Linked DNA regions of Homo sapiens: region 2 is linked to region 1. The links come from fine-mapping of genetic effects on gene expression. A gene starts in region 1. The other region holds a variant in brackets. All regions are shown on one strand. Distances are between the middles of the regions.

Region 1 (12,706 bases):
GCCCCCCTAAAAGATATGTCCAGGTCCTAAGACCTGGTATCTGTGGGTGTGACCTTATTTGGGAATAGGGTCTTTGCAGATATAATTAAGTTAAGGATTTCTAAATGAGGTCATCTTAAATTTAGGATGGGCCCTAAATTCAATGACTGGTGACTCATAAGAAAAAGGGGAGGCTGGGCACAGTGGCTCACGCTTGTAATCCCAGCACTTTGGGAGGCCAAGGCAGGCGGATCACGAGGTCAAGAGTTCAAGACCATCCTGGCCAACATGGTGAAACCCCATCTCTACTAAGAATACAAAAACTAGCTGGGCGTGGTGGCACATGCCTGTAGTCCCAGCTACTCGGGAGGCCAAGGCAGGAGAATCACTTGAACCCAGGAGGCAGAGGTTGGAATTAACTGAGATCATGCCACTGCACTCCAGCCTGGTGACAGAGCGAGACTCCATCTCAAAAAAAAAAGAAAAAAGAACAAAAGAAAAAGGGGAGAGAGGTCACAGATACCAGGATACTGGGAAGAAGGCCACACAAAGATGGAGGTAGAGATGGCTGTCATGATGCCACAAAACAAGGAACACCAGAGCTTCCAGAAGCTGGAAGAGGCAAGAAAGGATTCTGCCCTGGAGCCTTTGGAGAGAGCATAGCCCTCAAGACATCTTGATTTTGGACTCCTGGTTCCCCAAACCATGAGAGAACGCATTTCTGTTGTTTTACCACTAACTTTGCGGTAATTTGCTACAGCAGCCCAAGGAAATTAAAATACCTAGCATAATTTCTGTGAGTTCTGCCAGCTACCATGGGCAGTCTGTTAGCAGAATCAGAGTGATCCAAAAGAAGGCTTGGGCCAAGGCATGGTGATCTAAATGGAAATTCAAGGGCTTGAGGGAGGCCAGTAGGCAGAATGAGGGAATTAAAAGGTTACACGGAAAGGATGGACCAGATTCAGTGTGAAGGGCGTGGGAAAGGTAGCAGAAAAGGAGGTGGTAGAGAGAACTGCCAGGTTCCACTCCTAGACGTGAAGCAATTCTCAGTAATTACAAAGCCCAGTGTGTGGGTGGCTGGAGTGGAACAGAGTTGAAGTCCCTTCATGTTGAGGAGGCTAAGGAATTCCTAGGCCATAGAATCAGAGGGTATCAGCATGAAGACTCTGAATGGAGTCTGAGAATGGCAGTGGAAGACAGGGAAGGGGAAAAGTGAGCCTGATGTGGAAATCACAGGACAAGGGAGAGGAGGGCATGTGGTGGAGGTCAGGGGAATGCTGAAAGGGTGGTACCAACAGAGGGTAAAAACGGCAAGTGAAAAGCAGCTCAGCAAGAATAGAAACTGTGGCCGGGCACGGCCTGGCGTGGTGGCTCACGCCTGTAATCCTAGCACTTTGGGAGGCCGAGGTGGGCAGATCACGAGGTCAGGAGATCGAGACCATCCTGTCTAATATGGTGAAACCCCATCTCTAATAAAAATACAAAAAAAATTAGCTGGATGTGGTGGCGGGCGCCTGTAGTCCCAGCTACTCGGGAAGCTGAGGCAGGAGAATGGCATGAACCCGGGAGGCGGAGTTTGCAGTGAACCGAGGTGGTGCCACTGCATTCGAACCTGGGTGACAGAGCGAGACTCCGTCTCAAAAAAAAAAAAAAAAAAAATAGAAACAGCTAGAAGCAGCTCTGGAAAAAGGAACAAACCAGCTCTGCTCTTTCTTTTTTTTTGAGATGGAGCCTGGCTCTGTGGCCCAGGCTGAAGTGCAGTGGCACAATCTTGGCTCACTGCAAGCTGCGCCTCCTGGGTTCACGCCATTCTCCTGCCTCAGCCTCCTGAGTAGCTGGGACTACAGGCATCTGCCACCACGCGTGGCTAATTTTTTTTTTATTTTTAGTCGAGACAGGGTTTCACCATGTTAGCCAGGATGGTCTCGATCTCCTGACCTTGTGATCCGCCTGCCTCGGCCTCCCAAAGTGCTGGGATTACAGGCGTGATCCACTGCTACCGGCCTGCGCTTTCCCAGAGAGCCCAGGGAGTCAGAAAAGATAAGGATTTCTCAAGGTGGCTTGGAAAATGTGTGTAGTCTGGGGACAATGAGGTTCCATGTCTTTTAAAATTTTTTAAATTTTATTTCTTTTTAGAGACAGTCTTGCTCTGTCACCCAGGCTGGAATGCAGTGGTGCCATCATAGCTCACTGCAGCCTCAAACTCCTAGGCTCAAGGGATCCTCCTCCCCAAGCCTCTGGAATAGCTGGGACTACAAGTGTGCACCACCATGCCTGGCTAACATTTTAATTTTTTGTAGAGATAATGTCTTGCCATGTTGCCCAGGCTGGTCTCAAACTCTTGGCCTCAAGCAGTCCTCCTACTTTAGCCTCCCCAAGTGCTGGGATTACAGATGTGAGCCACTGCGCATGGCCTAGGCTCCAGGTCTTAATAAGAATTTTAAGTAGAATTTAAGCTAGGACTCTTGGGTTCTAATCTCGGCATCAAAGAAACACAGTTCAGCAATAACAATGTGAATTTTCAACCTGGACAACATAGAGAAACCATTGTCTCTACAAAAAATTAGAAAATTAGGGCCAGGTGTGGTGGCTCACACCTGTAATCTCAGCACTTCAGGAGGCCAAAGCGGGAGGATCTCTTGAGGTCAGGAGTTCAAGGCCAGCCTGGCCAACACGGTGAAACCCCGTCTCTACTAACAATACAAAAAAATTAGGCACAGTGGCACATACCTGTAGTCCTAGCTACTTGGGAGGCTGAGGCAGGAGAATCTCTTGGACCCAGGAGGCAGAGGTTGCAGTGAGCCAAGATGTGCACTCTAGCATTACAGCCTGGGTGACAGAAGGAGACTCTGTCTTAAAAAAAAAAAAAAAAAAAAATTAGCCAGGCTTGGTGGCATCTGCCTGCGGTCCCAGCTATGGGGGAGGCTTAGGTGAAGGATTGCTTGAGCCCAGGAGGTCAAGGCTATAGTGAGCCATGATCACAATGCTGCACTCTAGCCTGGGGAACAGAACAAGACCCTATCTCAAAAAAAGAAAAAATAAAGGTAAACGTAAATTTTAAGCACTTCATTTTTTATTCAGTTAAAACACACACACACATACACACACACACACACCAAGGAGAGAAGTACATAATTAATGCAAAACAAAAATCTTAAAAATCTAGCTGGTATGGTAGCATGTACCTGTAGTCCCAGCTACTCAGGAGGCTGAGTGGGGAGGATCACCTGAGCCCAGGAGTTCAAGGCTGCAGTGAGCTGTGATCCTGCCAATCCGCTCCAGCCTGGGTGACAGAGTGAGACCCTGTCTCAAAAAATAAAAAAAAATCTTTAAAATCTCTTCTCTCCACATGGATGACAGCTATTCTCACAAATTTCCTCTCTCTCACTCCCTTTACTCCTAACCACCCCAAACTCTATTGTGAGAAGACACCTGGACTGTACTGAACATAGTAACTGAGAGCCCCAGCTGTTGCTCTGAAATTCACTGCTGAAATTTGCACTGAGGTTACACCTTCCACGGGCTGCTCCCAGCATAGCTGCGGCAAAAATACTTTGGCTCCTGTACTCCCCAACAACCTTGCTGAACTTTCCTTAAAACTGCACGGTATTCTGAGAAGCTCCCACCCACCTTCCTTCCTTCCCTCTCTTCCTGACTGGAGGTCAGATTTGCATTGCAATCTCATGGGCCTCCCAGCTTCTCCCACTGTCTCCCCACTTTTTCTCACAGGTGGTTCCTCTAACTGATTTCTTTCTTTCTTTCTTTCTTTTGAGATGGAGTCTTGCTCTGTCGCCCAGGCTGGAGTGCAGTGGCGTGATCTCGGTTCACTGCAAACTCCACCTCTCAGGTTCAAGTGATTGTCCTGCCTCAGTCTCCCGAGTAGCTGGGATTATAGGCGTGCGCCACCATGCCTGGCTAATTTTTCTTTTTAGTAGAGATGGGGTTTCACCATCTTGGCCAGGCTGGTCTTGAACTCCTGACCTCAGGTGATCCCCCTGCCTTGGCCTCTCAAAGTGCTGGGATTACAGGAGTGAACCACTGCACCTGGCCCCCTTAATTGATTTCTTGCATGTTAATTCCCCTCTTGGCAATTGCTTCTCTGAAGACCCAGACTAAATTGTGACCTCTTCCATTTCCTCCTTCCTACCATTGCACTCATCTTTGCTGAAAGTTGTAACTGACTGGCCTAGAATGGCCAGAAAATGTTGGCACCTCACTGTCCCCCATCCATCCTCACTCCTTGTGGAAGGAAGTGAACAAATACTCTGAAATGTATCACTGTCCTTCACTTTAAGGAGAACTCATGAAAATTTCTGGTAAATAAGACTATCTCAGGATACTACTGGTAATCTATTAGGTAACACTTAAAGAGTACTTCACATTTGCTAGGCATTATGTTAGCTGCTTACATTTAAACCTTATAACTTGGCCAGGTATGGTGGCTCACATCTGTAATCCCAGCACTTTGGGAGGCTGAGGCAGGCGGATCACTTGAGATCAGGAGTTCAAGGCAAGCCTGGCCAACATGGTAAAACTCCATCTCTACCAAAAAATACAAAAAAATTAGCCGGGCGTGGTGGCACACGCCTGTAATCCCAGCTACTTGGGAGGCTGAGGCAGGAGAATCGCTTTAACCTGGGATGGGGAGGTTGCAGTGAGCCAAGATTGAGCCACTGCACTCCAGCCTGAGTGACAGAGCAAGACCCTGTCTCAAAAATAAATAAATAAATAAATAAAAATAAACCTTACAACTCTGAGGTAGAACTATTATTATTCCAATTTTACAGAAGAGGAAACTGAGGCCAAGTTGTCCAAGTCACACAGAGGTAACTGGCAGAGTTGGAACTAACCTCAGGACAGTCTAACACCAATGACTGGGCTCTTGTTATTATGTCATGGGTAACAAACTCAGAACACAAGGGTTTCACAGATCACCCCCTCTCCACTTTTACAGAGGAAACTGAGATCCTTAGGTGAATGACCCTGTGTTATCCAGGAAGTCAGGGCAGAAGCAAGATTTGTACCCAGGTGTTGACTCCAAATTTTCAGCTCTACTGTCTCAGAAAGTGAGAAAACTAAAAGATCAGGGTGACTCCTGTCTCACAATGGAGAAAAAAACTCAAACACAGCCACCAGCGGGGGGACTAAGGACAGGAAAGCAGCCTGGAGCATAGTGGTATTAAAGGGCAATTACTGGATAATTGCCTCCTACCTCCAACTTCCTCCTACCCCCACCCACCTGCCCCAAGCTGGAGCTTGCATGTGAGGTCTGAGGAATAACATTACAGATCTATAGAACTATGGAGTGCCCATAGGCAGGGCATTAGGACAGTGAGAAAGAAGTGGAGGGAGAGAGGACTAGCTGGAGGAAGCAGTTAGGTTCAGTGAGCCTCCCTGTGTTGGGTTTTCTACTAAGCACTGGTTATCTAAAGTTAAATAAGAAAAACTTCCTTGCTTCTGAGGATCAGGATAGACTGCATGGAGGAGATGATACCTGAGCAGGTTTCAGAGCCTGAAAAGACATAGAGGAGGGGGCGAAAACCTCTGGACTCACATGCAATTGCCTATTTGCTAGCTCGATTCAATTTCACAAATACATTCTAAAGGCCTTCTCTGCGTTGGGCCTTGTTCCAGGTGCTGGGACCACAGTGGTGAGCAAATCAGCTGCAGTCCCTGACCTTTGGCTGGAGAGTCTGTCTAGGAAGACAGCTAAACAATCTTAACACAGTGTGAGATGTGCTTTATGTAAGGAACCTACAAGGCACTGTGGGACAAGGGAGTCCAACTGCCCCCAGGCCAAAAGCAAGTCCCAATTTCTGAACATGAAAAAACTCTTCACAATCTAATGCCATTCTCACTTTCCAGTCTCATTTACCACCATTTCCCCAAAAGCTGGGAACACAACAAAGTATGTGTGTGTGTCTGTGTATGTGAATCTGAACATGCCAGGCCTTTGCTCACACTGCTTCTGTTCCCTGGCATATGGATGCTTTCTTGGAGAAACTCTCCTCAACACACTCAGCCTTACTCAAATTCTCTCTTGTGCTCCCAAGGCAATCTGCCTCTCTAGGTTGTCCATCTGCCTCTCTAGGTTGGTAAAGTCTTTAAAGCAAGGACCCAAATGCAAGGTCAAGAGTACCCATTACGGAGTTATACAGATACAGGTGGGCTTTGCCTAGCCAAGAGGCTTTGGCCTCTAAGCTGCCCTCTCTATCTAGATGAACTGTTACTACTCCAGGAAATGCAATCAGTACTGATGTTTAGTTCTTGGCACATGGTAGGTGCTCAAAAATGTTTTCTGAGTTGAATTGCATTAACATTAAGGTCATAGGTCAGAATTTGTACTTTATGAAGGCCCTGGCTATGAGCTGGATCTGGGAAGGGCTCATGATCAACTTTAGCAGTTTTCTGTGGCTAAAAATGAGAAATATAAACCATGTTCTTTGTCTTGAAGACCTGCCTGTTAGTGGGAGAAACAGATGGTCAAGCTCTCAACAGTACAATTCCAAATTCCTAGAGCAGTGGTTCTTAAACTTTAGCAAGCAGATCAGAATCACCTAAAGGTCATCTGCTAAAACAGATGGCTGGCCCCAGCCCCAGAGTTTCTGATTTAAAGGTCTGGAGTAAGTTCTGAGAATTCGAGCTTGCATTTCCAACTCACTCCCAGGTGATACTGAAGTTGCTGGATTGACAAGATTCCCTCCTTGATCAAACATTGGTCAGGCTCTTCTGAGCTCTCTCTTTGACTAGGCCTGAGTGTGGGCTCCCATGTCATTCCTTGTGGAATTCCATTTTAGCAAGAAACTTGCCAAGTCAGTTTAGCCAGAATCCTCCATTCTTGATATCTGATTACTCTCCATATCTGGTTTTGACCCATACCGCCACCATCCCCCAGGTGATGTTCAGTTACCCTGACCTGCCTTGGGCAGGAATCCTGTTAGGTCAATTTAGCCAGATTCCCCGCCAATGTTTCCTCTTAGTAATTTTCCATCCACTGACTTCCACACACTGCCCCTTAGCTATAAATTACCACTTTGCTATATTCAGCCCAATCGCTCTGACTTATGGCAAAACTCTATCCCTACCTCTGTCAGATTGGGCCTGAATAAAGTTTGCCTTACCATTCTTAAACATGAATAATTAAGTGTCATGAATAGTTTTTTCTTTAATGGGATCCATACTTTGAGAACTACTGATTAGAGGTTAAGGGTCCTGTGCTCATTATCTGGCACATATTAATGATAGGTCTCTGAGTTTGAATCCTGGCCAACCACATTGTCAGTCTTGGCTTTTTTTTTTTTTTTTTTTTGAGACAGGGTTTTGCCCAGGCTGGAGTGCAGTGATGCAATCACGGCTCACTGCAGCCTCGACTTCCTGGGCCAAGCCATCCTGCCGCCTTAGCCTCCCGAGTAGCTGGGGTCACAGGTGCAAGCCGCCATGCCCAGCTAATTTTTAATTTTTTTGTAGAGGTGGGGTCTTACTATATTGCTCAGGCTGGTCTTGGGCTCCTGGGCTCACCTACCTCGGCCTCAGTCTTGCCTCTTGATCAAATCACTCATCTCTCTGTGCTTGATTTACCTCATCTGTGAAATCCAGATAGTAAGCTAGTGCATGGTAAGTGCAAAAAGCAACACCTGGCACAATGCTTAATAAATGTTGGTTAAATCTTATAATCATTTTCTGTAGGAAGTGGGACGACAAAGTTAAGGGTCTAGGTGGTCAGAGAAGAGCAAGGACTATGTCCCTTTTTTGTGCAGCCAGGCAGGCCCTGTACTTTTTCTCTGCGCGACCCTCCTCGGGCAGCACCGGGTCTCGAACTCTCACGCCTTACTCCCAAGCAGGTTCTGTAGTCCAGCCCCCGCGGCTCCCTACAGCCAGCCGATGCTGCGCAAGCGCCGTACCCACGCTTTAGCACATGCGTACTCAGGTGCGCCGGTAGGGGACGCGCCGGCACAGCAAAAATGGCGGCGGCATTACGGGTGGCGGCGGTCGGGGCAAGGCTCAGCGTTCTGGCGAGCGGTCTCCGCGCCGCGGTCCGCAGCCTTTGCAGCCAGGCCACCTCTGTTAACGAACGCATCGAAAACAAGCGCCGGACCGCGCTGCTGGGAGGGGGCCAACGCCGTATTGACGCGCAGCACAAGCGAGTGAGTCCTGAGGGGCCTAAGTGAGTCCCGCCCCTGGCGTCCGCGACCTATCACTGCGTGCCCGGCTTGCGGCGTCCGAGGCCTCCCTGCCAATCCGCACGGTGCCTGGAGGGGCCGGAGCAAGGGTGTTCACCTTGAAAACCTGTAGCGTTTCTCGTGGAGGCGGGTATAACCAGCAGAAGCACCTGTGTGCTTTTTCATACTGTTTAACCCTTGGGATTTAGACGGATCTGGCTCGTCTCTAGCCAGCTCAACACTTAACATAAGCTTTTGGGCAACTTATTAAATCTCTGTGGGTCATTTTAATAATAATTCTTCCTTCACAAGTGTATCGTTAGACCATAGATAGCAAAATGATAGGCGCTCAGTAAAAACCATGTGCTTATTCTCGTGCCCCATGAAAGAGTGATGGTAGGTTCTTTCTCCTTTGTGGAAGCAGGAAAACTGAACTTGGGCATACTCCACTAACATGAAATGGGGGATGTGCGCGTGCAGGAACTTGTGGAACTTCTGCCCGCAGAATGCCTGGTCGAGCTCTTTAGGGCCTTAGCATGCCTCGCCTTGATGGGTAGCAAAGGCACGTGTCGGAAGCAGGTGGCCTTTCTGGGAGTGCGCAGGCTACTCTCGATGTTTGGCTGGACTGAGCAGTTGAAACACTGCCACCCACCGCCTGGGTTTTGAGGCGAGAATCCAGCTGGCCTTCAGAGATAAGCTGGGCGGCCCATTTTGGAGAGGTGATCCCTGACTTGAAACCAGGCTTGCCCAGTGTGTCCGTGACTGGTGGGTGAGTCTGGACCGTTGTGCTGAACGAATTAACCAACGGGAAGGTGCAGAAGTGAAACTCTTACAGATGAAGAGTATTCAGGCACAACTCACAACCATGAGGGAGGCACTGGGGGAGGGATGGGGTCTTAAAGTGAGGAGATTTGAACAGCTCTATATTTGTCTAATATTGATTCAGATGTCATAAATTCGCATTTGACAAGGGTCCAAAGGTAACAGTTCCTTTTGACACTTGAGAGTGAAATGTAAATTTAGTGATGGTTTGTGGTGCTAGGAGTGCTTTCTCTCCCCTGGGGCTACTTCTAACCTACTCTGTTAGGGCTGAGGGAGATGTTAGATCATCCTCTGGAAAGGCCTGTCAGTGCTCCTGTACACTCTTTCTGTTGGGGCCTATTGCTCAATTCTTCCCTGGAACATCGCCTAGCCCTTTCCCAGGTAGATCCTACTAGGTTTAGATGAAGCCTCCAGAAGCTGTTTTTCTTTTGCCAAAGTTAACTTAGGAGGCTGATTTAATATGAACCCCCTCCTGCACCCCTTTTTATTTTTATGTTTTGATACGGAGTTTTGCTCTTGTTGCCCAGGCTGGAGTGCCATGGTGCGATCTTGGCTCATTGCAACCTCTGCCTCCCAGGTTCAAGCTATTCTCCTGCCTCAGCCTCCCAAGTAGCTGGGATTACAGGTGCCCACGACCATGCCTGGCAACTTTTTTTTTGTATTTTTAGCAGAGACAGGGTTTCACCATGTTGGCCAGGCCGGTCTTGTACGCCTGACCTCAAGTGATTCACCCACCTTGGCGTCCCAAAGTGTTGGGATTATGGGTGTGAGCCACTGCACCCGGCCCTGCACCCCTTTTAAAACAATTTTTGACCATTTCCGTAGATTTTCCCAGAAGAGGAATTAGTGGGTCAAAGGGTGTAAGTTTATTTATTTTTTTTGAGACAGAGTTCACTCTGTTGCCCAGGCTAGAGTGCAGCAGCTCACTGCAACTTCTGCTTCCCAGCTTCAAGCAATTCTCCTGCCTCAGCCTCCAGAGTACCTGGGGTTACAGGTATGTGTCACCACATCTGGCTAATTTTTGTATTTTTAGTAGAGATGGAGTTTCACCATGTTGGCCAGGCTGGTCTTGAACTCCTGACCTCAGGTGATCCACCCGCGTCTGCCTCCCAAAGTGCTGGGATGACAGAATTTTTTTTTTTTTTTCCTTGAGACAGGGTCTTACTCTGTCACCCAGGCTGGAGGGCAGTGGTGTAATCATGGCTCACTGCATCCTTGACCTTCTGGGCTCCAGTGATCCTTCCACTTCAGCCTCCTACCCAGCTAATTTTTTTTTTTTTTTTTTTTTGGTAGAGACAGGGTCTCGCTTTGTTGCCCAGGCTGGTCTCAACTCCTGGGCTCAAGCAGTCCTCCCACCTTGGCCTTCCAAAGTGCTGGGATTACAGGTGTGAGCCGCAGTGCCTGGTCAGTATAAATATATTTTAAAAATCTGTATATATGTTGCCAAATTGGTTTCCTGAAAACTTACTCTACTTTACATGACAGTGTATAGGATTGCCTGTTTTTTGTTTTGTTTTTTTTTTTTTAAATGCAACCTCACCAGCTTTGGCTACTTTCCTAAGGGGAAAATAATAGCCAATTTGAGGTATTTTTTGTTTGTTTTTGTTTTTTTCGGGGAGGGGGGGATAGGACAGTAGGCTAGGGTATTTGCCTCGGGTTGAGAGCTTGGGAGTCCAAGCAATGGAGGTTTTTTTTTTTTTTTTTTTTTTTTTAAGATAGAGTCTTGCTCTGTCACCCAGGCTGGAGTGCAGTGGCGCGGTCTTGGCTCACTGCAAGCTCCGCCTCCCGGGTTCATGCCGTTCTCCTGCCTCAGCCTCCTGAGTAGCTGGGACTACGGGTGCCCACCACCACACCTGGCTATAATTTTGGAGTTTTAGTATAGACGGGGTTTCACCATGTTAGCCAGGATGGTCTCGATCTCCTGACCTCGTGATCCGTCTGCCTCGGCCTCCCAAAGTGTTGGGATTACAGGCGTGAGCCACTGCACATGGCCTCTTTTTTTTTCTTAAGACAGGGTCTCACCTTGTTGCTCAGGCTGGAGTGCGGTGGAGTGATCGTGGCTCACTACAACCTCTGCTTCCCAGGTTCAAGTGATTCTCCTGCGTTAGCCTCTTGAGTAGCTGGGATTTAAGGCACGTGCCACCACACCTGGCTAATTTTTGTATTTTTAGTAGAGACGGGGTTTCACCATGTTGAGCAGGCTGGTCTCTAACTTTTGACCTCAGGTGATCCTCCCATCTCGGCCTCCCAAAGTGCTGGGATGACAGAATTTTTTTTTTTTTTTTTTTTTCTTGAGACAGGGTCTTACTCTGTCACCCAGGCTGGAGGGCAGTGGTGTAATCATGGCTTAGTGCATCCTCGACCTCTGGGCTCCAGTGATCCTCCCACTTCAGCCTCCTACCCTGCTAGTTATTTTATTTTATTTTATTTTTTGGTAGAGACAGAGTCTCGCTTTGTTGCCCAGGCTGGTCTCAACTCCTGGGCTCAAGCAGTCCTCCCACCTTGGCCTTCCAAAGTGCTGGGATTACAGGTGTGAGCTGCAGTGCCTGGTCAGTATAAATATATTTTAAAAATCTGTATATATGTTGCCAAGTTGGTTTCCTAAAAACTTATTCTACTTTACGTGACAGTGTATAGGATTGCCTGATTTTTGTTTGTTATTTTAAACACAACCTCACCAGCTTTGGCTACTTTCCTAAGGGGGAAATAATAGCCAATTTGAGGTATGTGGTTTTTTTTGTTGTTGTTGGGGAAGGGGACGGTAGGCTAGGGTATTTGCTTGGGGCTGAGAGCTTGGGAGCCCAAGCAATGGCGGCTTTTTTTTGTTTGTTTTTGTTTTTTGAGACAGTGTCTCACCCTGTCACCCAGGCTGGAGTACAGTGGTGCGATCTTGGCTCACTGCAACCCCTGCCCCCTGGGTTCAAGCGATTCTCTTGCCTCAGCCTCCCGAGTAGCTGGGACTACAGGTGGGTGCTACCAAGCCCAGCTAATTTTTTTTGTATTTTTAGTAGAGATAGGGTTTCGCCGTGTTAGCCAGGATGGTCTCGATCTCCTGACCTCATGATCCGCCTGCCTTGGCCTCCCAAAGTGCTGGGATTACAGGTGTGAGCCACTGCGGCTAGCTTTTTTTTTTTTTTTTTTTTTTTTTTTTTTAAAAGACAGGTTCTCGCTTTGTTGCTCAGGCTGGAGCACGGTGGAGTGATCACAGCTCACCACAACCTCCGCTTCCCAGGTTCAAGTGATTCTCCTGCCTCAGCCTCTTGAGTAGCTGGGATTACAGGCACGTGCCACCACTCCCAGCTAATTTTTGTATTTTTCAGTAGAGACCAGGTTTTGCCATGTTGTCCAGCTGGTCTCAAACTCCTGGGCTCAAGCGATGCTCGTCTCAGCCTCCCAAAGTGCTGGGATTACAGGTGTGAGCCACTGTGCCCAGCCGAGGCTCCTGGTAGATTGAGAGCTCTGACCTCATCTCCTCAAAGAAGCTTTTTTTTTTTTTTGGGACGGAGTTTCACTTTGTTGCCCAGGCTGGAGTGCAATGGTGCACAATCTCGGCTCACTGCAAGCTCTGCCTCCTGGGTTCAAGCGATTCTTCTGCCTCAGCCTCCTGAGTAGCTGGGAAGACAGGCGCATGCCACCACACCCGGCTTATTTTGTATCTTTAATAGAGATGGGGTTTCTCCATGTTGGTCAGGCTGGTCTCGATCTCCTGACCTTGTGATCCACCCGCCTCTGCCTCTCAAAGTGCT
Region 2 (12,706 bases), 61 kb after region 1:
TGTAGTCCCATTTACTTGGGAGGCTGAGATGGGAGGATTGCTTGAACCCAGGTGTTTGAGGCTGTTCTGAGTTATGATCATTGCCACTGCACTCCATCCTGGTGTGCAAGACTCCATCGCCAAAAATAAGTAAATGAATAAAATTTTATCTTTCCAGTTATTTTACATGTCATTTCTTTCCTTGTCTTGCATTGGCTACAACTCCCTATATGTCAAATGTAATGGTGAATCATAGTTGTGATTCTGGGCATCTTTGTATTGTTTGTAAGTTTAGCAAGACTGCTGTCAGTGTTTCCTAATTTATATCTTTTTTCATGTTGAAGCTACTACTGGCTTCTGTTTTAAATATTTTTGTTGTTGTTTATTTTGTTCTTAAAGTTAGGAATGAGTGTTGAATATTGTTGAATGCACTTTCAGTGTTTTTGGAGATGATCATGTGATTTTCTTCCTTAGATCTATTTATAAATCTATCCTAGTAGATTTCTGAATACTAAACTTCCTTCATTCCTGAAGTTGTATATTCTGTTTGCTAATGTTTTGAGTTTCTGCATTGATATTATGTGATACTAGTGCGTATATTTTAAGGTATTTTAAAATCAGGTTTTGGTATCGATGTTGTATTTGCTTTACTTATTTATTTATTTAAAAAAAATTTTTTTTTGAGACAGAGTTTTGCTCTTGTCACCCAAGCTGGAATGCGGTGGCACAATCTCTACTCACTGCAACCCCTGCCTCCTGGGTTCAACCAATTCTCCTGCATCAGACTCCCAAGTAGCTGGGATTACAGGCGAGCCCTACCATGTCCGGCTAATTTTTGTACTTTTAGTAGAGACACGGTTTCGCCATGTTGGCCAGGCTGGTCTTGAACTTCTGACCTCAGGTGATCCACCTGCCTTGGCCCCACAAAGTGCTGGGATTACAGGTGTGAGCCACCGTGCCTGGCCTGTATTTGCTTTATGTATTAGTGTTCTAGTGCTGCCATAAGAAAATACCATAAACTGCATAGCTTAAACAACAGAAATTTATTTTCTGTCAGTTCTGGAGGCTAGAAGTCCAAGATCATGGTGTTGGCAGGGTTGGCTTCATTCTGAGGTCTGTGTCTCTTTGGCTTCTGGACTACACTCTTGCTGTGTCCTCACGAGGTCTTTGCTCTCAGTGCATGCAGAAAGAGATCTCTGGTATCTCTTCGTCTTTTTTTTTTTTTTTTCCCTCAGAGACAGGGTCTTGCTTTGTCACCCAGGCTGGAGTGCAGCGGTGTGACTTTGACTCACTGCAGGCTTGACCTCCTGTGCTCAAGTGATCTTCCCACTTCAGCCTCCTGAGTAGCTGGGACTATAGCTGCATGCCACCACATCTGGCTAATTTTAAAATTTTTTGTAGAGATGGCAACTCACTATGTTGCCCAGGCTGGCTTTTCCAATTATTTATTTATTTTTTTTTGAGTTGGAGTCTGGCTCTGTCGCCCGGGCTGGAGTGCAGTGGCGTGATCTCGGCTCACTGCAAGCTCTGCCTCCCGGGTACACGCCATTCTCCTGCCTCAGCCACCCAAGTAGCAGGGACTACAGGCACCCACCACCATGCCTGGCTAATTTTGTTTTTGTATTTTTAGTAGAGACGGGGTTTCACCGTGTTAGCCAGGATAGTCTCGATCTCCCGACCTCGTGATCTGCCCGCCTTGGCCTCCCAAAGTGTTGGGATTACAGATGTGAGCCACTGTGCCCGGCTGGCTTTCCAATTCTTTTCTTTTTTTTGAGATGGAGTCTCACTCTGTCGCCAGGCTGGAGTGCAGTGGCACAATCTCAGCTTAGTGCAACCTCTGCCTCCCGGGTTCAAGTGATTCTCCTGCCTCAACCTCCTGAATAGCTGTGATTTCAGGCACCCGCCACCACGCTTGGCTAATTTTTGTATTTTTAGTAGAGACGGGGTTTCACCATGTTTGCCAGGATGGTCTTGATCTCCTGACCTCATGATCCGCCTGCCTCGGCCTCCCAAAGTGCTGGGATTACAGGCATGAGCCACGGGCGCCAACCCAGCTTTTCCAATTTTTAAAAGAATTCCAGTCCTAACAGATTAGGGTCCCCCTCTTATGGCCCCGTTTAACTTTAATTACCTCTGGAACATCCCTCTCTCCAAATTCACTTTTTTTTTTCTTTGAGACAGAGTCTAACTCTGTTGCCCAGGCCAGTGTGCAGTGGCGAGATCACGGCTCATTGCAACTTCCACCTTCCAGGTTCAGGAGATGCTTCTGCCTCAGCCTCTCAAGTAGCTGGGATTACAGGTGTGTGCCACCATGCCTGGCTAATTTTTGTATTTTTAGAGATGGGGTTTCGCCATGTTGGCCAGGCTGGTCTCAAACTCCTGGCTTCAAGTGATCCACTTGCCTCGGCCTCCCAAACTACTGGCATTAGAGGTGTAAGCCACTGCACCTAGACCATATATTTACTTTTAACTCAAAAAGTATTGTATTATTACACTTTTTTATTTTGCTTTTTAAAAAAACTTCTTCTGGCCGGGCGTGGTGGCTCATGCCTGTAATTCCAGCACTTTGGGAGGCTGAGGCGGGTGGATCACTTGAGGTCAGGAGTTCGAGACCAGCTTGACCAACACGGTGAAAACCTGTCTCTATTGAAAATACAAAAATTAGCCGGGTGTGGTGGTGTGTCCCTGTAATCCCAGCTACTGGAGAGACTGAGGCAGGAGAATCACTTAAACTGGGGAGGCACAGGTTGCAATGAGCTGAGATTGCACCATTGCATTTCAGCCTGGGCGATGAGTGAAACTGTCTCTAAAAAAAAAAAAAAAGAAAGAAAAAAAGTGAATATGCTAGAAAAGAGTCAAAGCAGTGACTTTAGAAGCTACTTAAGAGTGCACACACAAATCAATACGGTAGTCAGGGGAAGGCATTACTTCTGGGGAAGAAGAGTACAAAGGAAAGAGAGAGGTACCTTTGGAAATTGTGAAGGGAAAATGAAGCAAGGGGGTTACATTTATGTACCTGCAAGACATACAAAATCGAATACACTGAAGGACACTACATCTTTCCCCATCACCCTCCCTAAAATTAGTCACCCATGAACTAAACTGCACTTTGCTATACTGACAGAAGAGGGTGCTCTTGAACTAGGATTTTTGTTCATTTGTTCATCTGCCAGCTTTGGAGAATGCAGATACAAATAGTTTTCATTTATATAAAGCTACAATAAGAAAACAAAAAGTGAGAATGAAACATGTCAGTTGATGGAACTCCCTTCACTGTAAAAGTCAATCATGAAGCAGCTGACTATGCTTCAATCTGAGTGCAGTAGCCCCTGATAAGCATTTGAGGTTGTAAAAATAGAAAATTCAGAAACTAATGACAAGATGGAGAGATAATAGTAAGAAGTTAAAGCTGATTGAATTAAGAAAATGGGCAGGGGAGACAAAATTGCATCAGAAATGATATCAAAATTGCAAGGTGCTCAAAGGAGAATGTATTTCAATGAAAATTTAATAAGGAACATTAAAGAAAAGTAGATAAATAGCCTAAAAAATGAATGAAATAATATAAAAAAGTAAAAGTAGATTTTACATTCTCACCACAAAAAAGTATGTGAGGTGGTGGATATGTTAACTAGCTTTAGTCATCCTACACTGTATACATATATGAAAACATGTACGTTGTACATATATGCAATTATAAAATTTTAAAATAGTACAGATACCTTTAATACAATTATTGGTTATATTGTCACATCTGGGATTAATTTTTTAAAATTCTTAGTTAAATGTATGAGAAAAAAGTGACTACAATGAAAGGCAAAGAAGAATGAACATACATATAATTGGAGTGTCTGAAGAAAAACCAGTAGAACAGACTTAATATTTAAAACTGTAATCCAAGAAAATAGTCCAGAAATAAAATAAGATTCAGATTTATATAATGAAAGAGCACACTGAGCACGTGGGAAAATTGACCCAGAATTGTCAAACTAGAGAAAATATTAACTGTTCGATTTTTAAAATAAGGAGAAATACTCAGGACCTTTGGGCAGAAATCAAATGACTTACAAGGGCAAGAGAATAAAATGGCATCCAACTTCTCCAAAGCAACGTAGAAAAGCAAGGAAACAACAGAAAAGCACTTTCAGGAGGCTGAAGGAAAGAATCTGTGACTAAGGATTTTATGTTTAGCAAAGCTCACCTTCATGTATTAAGACTGCAGAAAACCAGTTTTAAACCAAGAACCGAGGGAAGTTTGTGTTAATGAGGCTTTCTTGAGGAATCTACTAGAGAATGAGCTTTATCCAATCAAGAGGTAGCTGGAGAAATTTCAACAAAAGGATTGGTAGTGATTATCTAATATACTTAATTATAATTCTAAGACTAAAACAGAAGTGGGGATGAGGGTAGAGAACAATGTATAAGTACTATATGTTTAGTTTCAGAAAAAAATGCAACTGAAAAATGGGAGGAGAAGAGAGGGGAAGAATATTGCAGAATCAGCTCACTGATTATTGTTAGCTAACAGATATCATTAAAAACAAACTAGTTAATAAAAGATTAAGGAAATGAACTAAAGGCATCAAAAGGCATAATTACAAAGGTAACCACTAGACTAAAAAATACAAACATTCTTTAATACTACTCACATAAACAGTATATATCATTGTGGGTAATGATAAAGGGGAAAAATAAAAAAAAAGGTAAAAGACAATAAATATAGAATACATAGTAATTATAAAAAATAATATGACAGGCCAGGCGTGGTGGCTCATGCCTGTAATTCCAGTACTTTGGGAGGCTGAGGCGAGCAGATCACCTGAGGTTGGAAGTTTGAGACCAGCCTGACCAACATGGAGAAACCCTATCTCTACTGAAAATACAAAATTAGCCAGGTGTGGTGGCACATGCCTGTAATCCCAGCTACCCGGGAGGCTGAGGCAGGAGAATCGCTTGAACCCAGGAGGCAGAGGTTGTGGTGAGCCGAGATTGCACCATTGCACTCAAGCCTGGGCAACAAGAGTGAAACTCCATCTCAAAATAATAATAATAATAATAATAATATGATAGTAAAAAAGTGTCATACCAATAAATATGGATGGGTTTGATTCACTTGTTAAAAATATGTCTAATTTGTTATGGACCAATTATATTCAGTATATAAATGTGATTCAGAAAGGCTAAAAATAAGGAATGGGCAGAAATATACTGGGAGAATGGAAACAATAACAGCAGTATTTGTGACACTAATATTGAACAGAGTAAAGTTCAGGTATTAACCATAATAAGGAAGGACTTTTTTTTTTTTTTTTTGATATGGAGTCTCACTCTGTAACCCAGGCTGGAGTGCTGTGGCACAATCTCAGCCCACCGCAACTTCCACCTCCCAGGTTCAAGTGATTCTCCTGCCTCAGCTTCCCAGGAAGGACATTTTCAACTGCTAAAAGCCATAGTTCACAATGATAATGTAAAGCATATCGAATATCTGTGCCAGAAATAACCACCATCTTTATAAAGCTGAAACTATAGGAGATTCAACAGACTTAGGTAGAAAGACTGAATAGGAGATGTATACACAGCATTGTTATTACAAAGCAGGTCAAATGGACAAAAGTAATAATTTAGGAGACCTAAATAACGTAATAGGTAGATCTTACACATTTCTTTTGGACTTTACACCCTGGTAATGAACAATAAATCTTATTCTGAAGTGCACATGGAATATTCACAAAAGTTGATCATATGTATTAGATCAGAAAGAAAACATC[A/G]TTAAATCCCATAGAGCAAAAAATACTGTGAAACAACATTGCTTAAAATTAGAAACTTTTGTAGCAACTAAAACAAAAGTAGCCTCCAGCCGGGAAATAAATCTTCTAGTAAACAATTCTTGGATGAAAGGGGAAAATAGAAACCAAATGACAGAATTCTAAAAGAAAAAAAGACAAAACACTATGTGTCAAAACCTATAGAATATGTTTAAAACGATGAACAGATGAAAATCTGTTTCCTGAAACAGTAAAAATCAGAGAAGGAAAATAAACAGGCCAGGTGCGGTGGCTCACACATGTAATCCCAGCACTTTGGGAGGCCGAGGCAGGTGGATTGCTTGAGCTCAGGAGTTTGAGACCAGCCTGGGCAACACGGTGAAACCCCGTCTCTACTAAAATACAAAAAATTAGCTAGGCATGGCGGCATGTGCCTGTAATCCCAGGTACTCAGGAGGCTGAGACAGGAGAATCGCTTGAACCTGGGAGGCAGAGGTTGCAGTGAGCCCAGATCGTGCCACTGCACTCCAGCCTGGGTGACAGAGCAAGACTCCATCTCAAAAAAAAAAAAAAAAAAGAAAAGAAAAACAGATTCCCAACTGGAAAAGCCAGGGGAAAAAACCCTGTAAAATATTTCAGAATAAATCCAAGAAATAATTTAATAAGGATAAATGCAGAAATTTATGATGGAAATAGAAGAATAGCTGCAATTAGTAAACACTGGCTAACTTCAAAAAAGAGACAGTAAAAGCAGAAGTATGAAGTGAGAAAGGGAATAACCATTGAAAAAGAAGAAACTTAAGAATCGTTAAGAGGCCAGGTGTGGTGGCTCATGCCTATAATCCCAGCACTTTGGGAGGCTGAGGTGGGAGGATCGCTTGAAGCCAGGAGTTGAAGACCAACCTGGGCAACATAGTGAGTCCCTGTCTCTACAAAAATTTTTAAAGTTAACTGGGTGTGGTGGCATGCACCTATAGTCCCAGCTACTTGAGAGGCCTCAGTGTAGGAGAATTGCTAGAACACAGGAGTTCAAGGCTGTAGTGAGCTGTGATTGCACCATCATACTCCAGCCTGGGCAACATAGTGAGACCCTGTCTCAAAAAAAAAAAAAATTCTAAGAGACAAGATACATTGGAAAATTTGTTTGGAAAACACAGTTTAACAGAAATTGATCCCATCAGAGATAGGAAGCTTAAATGAACCACCAAATTCCACGGAAGGAATTACTTCACCAAAAAGCACAAGGAGCTGGATTCAGTGGCTCATGCCTATAATCCCAACATTTTGGGATGCTAAAACGGGAGGATTGTTTGAGCCCAGGAATTTGAGACCAGCCTGGGCAACATGACGAAACTCTGTCTCTACAAAAAATAAATTAGGGCCAGGCAAGGTGGCTCACACCTGTAATCCCGCACTTTGGGAGGCCGAGGTGGGCGGATCACCTGAGGTCGGGAGTTCGAGACCAGCCTGACTAACATGGAGAAACCTCGTCTTTACTAAAAATACAGAATTAGCCAGGTGTGGTGGTACATGCCTGTAATCCCCGCTACTCGGGAGGCTGAGGCAGGAGAATTGCTTGAACCCAGGAGGCGGAGGTTGCGATGAGCCAAGATCGTGCCATTGCACTCCAGCCTGGGCAACAAGAGCGAAACTCCATCTAAAAAAAAAAAAAAGCCAGGCATGGTGGTATGCACCTGTAGTCCCAGCTACTGGGGAGGCCAAGGTGGGAGTTCACTTGAGCCCAGGAAGTTGAGGGAGCAGTTAACCATGTTTGTGCCACGGCACTCTACCCTGGGTGACAGAGCAAGACTCTGTCTCAAACAAACAAACACCAGGCCCAAATAGTTTCATGTGGAATTTCTGAGACCTTTAAGGGCCAAATAGTCCTAGTGCCACATAAATTCTTCCAGAGCATAGAAAGTAAACAAAACACACAAGAACCTTCCAAAATTTTTTAAAAGAAGTATGATATCAGTACCTGAACCTGATAAAGGTAGTACTTAAGATTTCAGTTTCATATTGCTTATTTCTTTAAAATTATATCTGTGGCCTACTGGGATGTATTCTAGGAATGCAAGATTGGTTCTAGGAAACTCAATAATATACTGTATTAACACATATAGGGGAGAAAAATCACAATTATTTATATAGACGCTGAAGAAAACCTTTAAGAAACATCAATACCTATTCCTGATAGACTTCATAAAATAGGAATTAATACTTTCTTAATGTAATAAAATTTGGTATAGACCTTTTCAAAAGCCTGCATCTCACCTAATAAAGACTAGCTTCTACTAGGATTAGGAACAAGTATAGGATGCCCATTATTCCCATTATTATTTAACATTGTTCTGGAAATATTAACCAATACAGTTATCCAAGAAGAGGACCAATTAGAGACAAAAGCCTTGGGAGAGATGTCAAGCTGTAACGTAGGTGATATAGTATTGTAGTATTCAAGAAAACTCTAGAGAATGCATTATTATACTAAAACAATACTTGAGGAACAGGATACAAAATTAACATATAGAAATCTTCATATACGCAAGCAGTAACCAATTATGGTAGAGTAAAAGCCTCTCTTACATAGCAACAGGAAGATAAAATATTTAGTAATAATTTTAACAGGAATGTACAGAAGCTGTTTTAGGGCAAATTTATTTTTTTAGACAGGGTTTCACTCTGTCACCCAGGATGGAGTGCAGTGACCCAGTCACAACTCACTGCAGCTTCAACTTCCTGGTCAAGCAATCCTCCCACATTGCCAGGACTACAGGCATGCATCACCACACACACCTGATTTAATATTTTTTTTTTTGTAGGAAGAATTCCTGCTATGTTGCCCAGGCTGGTCTCGAACTCTTGGGCTCAAGCGATCCTTCTGCCTTGGCCTTCCAAAGTGCTGGGATTTTAGGTGTGAGCCCCCAAGCCCAGCCCAGGGTGATCTTAAAAACACTTTTGAAAATCAAAAGTAGGCCAGGCATGGTGGCTCACACCTGTAATCCCAGCACTTTAGGAAGCTGAGGAGGGAAGATCCTTTGAGCCCAGGAGTTTGAGACCATCCTGGGCAACATAGTGAGACCTTGTCTGTACAAAACAAAACATTAAAATAGACTTGAACAAATGGAAAGACATTCCTTGTTCCTGGGGTTAATGTTATTAACAAACTGGTGATTCTTAAGTTGTTCTATAAATTTAAGGCAATCCCAATAAACAGTTTTTAAAAACTAGAACTAGATAAGTTTATACAAAAGTGCACATGGAAAAATAAAAGTGCAAGAATACCTAAGAATATACTGCAAAAGAAAAGCTGTAAGTGGGGACTAGCCATGCTTTATATTACAGCATCCTATAGTTAAAACTGTGGTACAGGCACATAAATAGACCAGTGGAATAGAATAAAAGAGCCAGAAATAGACTCAAGTACATACAGAATTTTAGTACAGTCACGCGTTGCGTAACAACAGGGATGTGTTCTGAGAAATGCATCATTAGGCAGTTTCTTTGTGCGACCATCATAGAGTGTACTTCCACAAACCTAGATGGTATAACCTATTACACACCTAGGATCTGTGGTATAGTCTGTTGCTCTTAGGCTGCAAACCTGTATAGCACGTTACTGTACCAAACACTGTATGCAGTTGTAACACAATGGTAAGTATGTATCTAAACATAAAAAGGGTACAGTAAAAATAGGGTATTACAATAGGACCACCTTCCTATAGGCAGTTTGTCATTGACCAGAACCTCTTTGTGTAGTGCCCAACTGTATATGATAATGATATTTTATCAAATCTCAGGGGCAAAAATTAGCTTTTAATAAATGATGCTGGGGCAACTGACTAGCCATTTAGGAAAATATAAAATTAGATTCATACTTTACACCATGTACAAAAATAAACTACAAATGGGTCAGAAAACTAAATATAATCTGTGAATCCATACAAGCACTAAAAGAAAACACAGATGAATTCCTCTGAAACCTTAGGGGAAGGTTTAGAAATGCTTTTGAACTGTAACTCAACTAGTTTCAGTGAAAGATAGACAAAGCTGACTGTGAAAATTTTAAAATCCCACTCTTCATAGCAAAAAACTATAAATAAAATCAAAAGGCAACCAATATGCTAGAAGAAACTCTTGGCAGCATGTATCCCAGAGTATGAATATTCTTAATAAAGAGCTCTTATGCTGAGGGATTAACAACCAAAATTGATAGAAAAGTGGGCAAAAAACCACGGATAGATAGCTCACAAAAAAGATATAAAATGGACCTTAAACATGTCAAAAGATTTTCAACTTCATACATAATGCTAGAAATACAAATTCAAATTACACTGAGTATTTTCTCATATGTTAGATTGGCTAAAAATAAAAACCCCGAAAACACTTTCCATTGGAAAGTCAGTGGAGAAGCAGGCACTCCTGTGCATTGCTGGTAGGGGACTCTGGTATTATCCAGGACTAAATTAGCATTTGCCCTTTAACTCAGCAATCCCATTCCTAGCAATTTACCCTGAAGATACACTTCCCACCATACAAAATTATAGATGTACGAGGTTACGACCATTACGTTGTCATTTGTAATTGCGAGATACTCTAAATAACCTAAATGTAAATTTTAAAATAATGTAAGCCACGTGTAGATTGGTTGAATAAACTTTGGTACATCACACAGTACAGTACTATGCAGAAGTGAAAAAGAATGATGATCTCTATGAACTGATAGGAAGTGATTCCCAGGACATATTAAGTGAAAAAATTCAAAGTGCAAGAGTGTCTGTACTGTTACTTTCCATGTAAGAAGGGTAAATTAAAAGATACAAATGCAAACACACACATAATACATCAGAAAATAATGAGATTAATAACAGGGTAGGTGGGACTAGGGTGGAAGGGATGGGGAAGGAACACTATTAAACTGTATTAGTATTTTACATATTAAAAAATAAAATCAAGACTGGGGAAAACCTTTAAAATGAAATACAAACATGAACCTGTTTTAAATGAGTGTCTTTTGAACCTATATTTTGACTATATACCTTTAATCTAAAGACCAAAATAGCTGTAAAAAAATTCTAGCTAGTAGGTCTGTTTTTTGTAGCTAAGTTAGCAGTTCTGAAACCATTTTCTCTGTATTTGAGGATCGAATAAATAAGTACATTTTGAGGGTAGTAGCAGCCAGATTCTGCTATCGGAGAAGGGAGTTGTGAATATGGCAAGAGAAAAAAATCTAGAATGAACCCTATAGTTGCACTGGAGTAGGATTAGAATTATCAGCATGAACTCATGGTTTTTCATATAGCTGGACTTTGGACGTTTTAGAAGGAGTCACACACACACACACATCCCTAAAAGGAACCCAGGCCTTTTGGAGAAATGGCTGATTGTAGGGCTGGGGCAGGAAAGAAACCAAGATGAACCAGAAAGTAAGATACTTCCAAAATATAAGGTAGTGCTCAAAGAATGATGGGGACACTTTAGAAGGACACAGGAACCAGCATGAAGGAACTTTGGTAAATATAGGACAATTTAAACATAAAATGATGGTGAAAGATTATAATCCATAGAATAAAACAATCTATAAGTTCATATTGATACCTATAAGTAAATGGGAAAGGCAAAGATCTTTCTTGTGGTAGATGTCAGCTAATAAATGGAGAAGAAAAGTGGAATTGGAAAACTCACCCTTTGGGCTGGGTGTGGTGGTTCACACTTGTAAGGAGGGCGGATTGCTCGAGCTTCGGAGTTTGAGCCCAGCCCGGCCAATACGGTGAAACCCTGTCTCTACTAAAAATACAAAAATTAACCAGGTATGGTGGCATGAACCTGTGGTCCCAGCTGCTTGGGAGGCTAAGGTGGGAAGATCGCTTGAGCCTGGGAGGTGGAGGTTGCATCGAGCTGAGGTTGCTCCACTGCACTCCCACCTAGGTGGCAGAGTAAGACCCTGTCTCAAGAAAAACAAAAACAAAAACAAAAAAACAAAACAAAAAAACTCACCATTTGGCAGCTATCATGACAGTAATGAGTCAGGCAAGAATCATGGCTGCTTGGTGGCTGCTAGGATGCTAAACCTAGTGGATGAAGAACTAGATTAATGATTAAAGTTTGAAGAACAGGATTTTATGTAGTCTCAACGTATTTCCTCACAAAATTCTTATTAAATTGGAGAAATAGTAACTTTACAAGGAAACCTGCAGATATCACCATCATTAATGGACAAATCAACACATTGTGCCACTTGATGAGAATGCTCCTTCTGTGGTACTCCTGTGGAAAGGCTTAGCTCAAAATTAAACATGAAGAAATACCAAAGGAACCCAAATAGAAGTCATGCTTTACAAATTAACTGGTCTGTTGTCTTCAAAGATGTCATGATTATGAAAGACAAAGATGGAGGGGGAAAGTTAAAGGAGCCTAAAGAGATATAACCACTAAAAGCACCAGGTGATCCTGGCTCAGGTTCTGGACCAGAATTTTGTTGCTTGTGCTGCTATAAAGGATACTATTGGAACAATTGGCAAACTTGAATAATGTCATATAATAAGAAATAGTGGCCGGGCGCGGTGGCTCACGCCTGTAATCCCAGCACTTTGGGAGGCCGAGGTGGGCGGATCACGAGGTCGAGATCGAGACTATTCTGACCAACATGGTGAAACCATCTCTAAAAATACAAAAAAATTAGCTGGGCATGGTGGTGCGTGCCTGTAGTCCCAGCTACTCGGGAGGCTTAGGAGAATTGCTTGAACCCAGGGGGCGGAGATTGCAGTGAGCCGAGATCGTGCCACTGCACTCCATCCTGGGCAGCTAAGCGAGACTCCGTCTCAAACAAACAAAAGAAAATTGTGAATTGGGCACAGTGGCTCATGCCTGTAATCTCAGCACTTTGGGAGGCTGAGGCAGGTGGATTGCGTGAGGCCAAGAGTTTGAGACCAGCCTGCGCAACATAGCAAGACCCTGTCTCT

Evidence for each region. PIP is the estimated chance that this variant, and not a neighbour inherited with it, causes the effect.
Region 2: its variant is fine-mapped to the expression of PCCB in whole blood (TOPMed, PIP 0.92).

What each region holds. Positions count from the first base shown.
Region 1 is chr3:136,242,436-136,255,141 of GRCh38, forward strand. PCCB (propionyl-CoA carboxylase subunit beta) reads left to right here and starts at 7,905. Exons shown (of 15, transcript NM_000532.5): 1 at 7,905-8,123. The coding sequence starts at 7,941. RefSeq lists enhancers at 7,544-8,410, 7,640-7,699, 8,330-8,379.
Region 2 is chr3:136,302,960-136,315,665 of GRCh38, forward strand. All of the region lies in intron 9 of PCCB (propionyl-CoA carboxylase subunit beta), which reads left to right. Among named protein-coding and RNA genes, the nearest start is that of PCCB, 59 kb to the left of the region's middle. The variant A/G (reference allele first, on the strand shown) is at 5,748.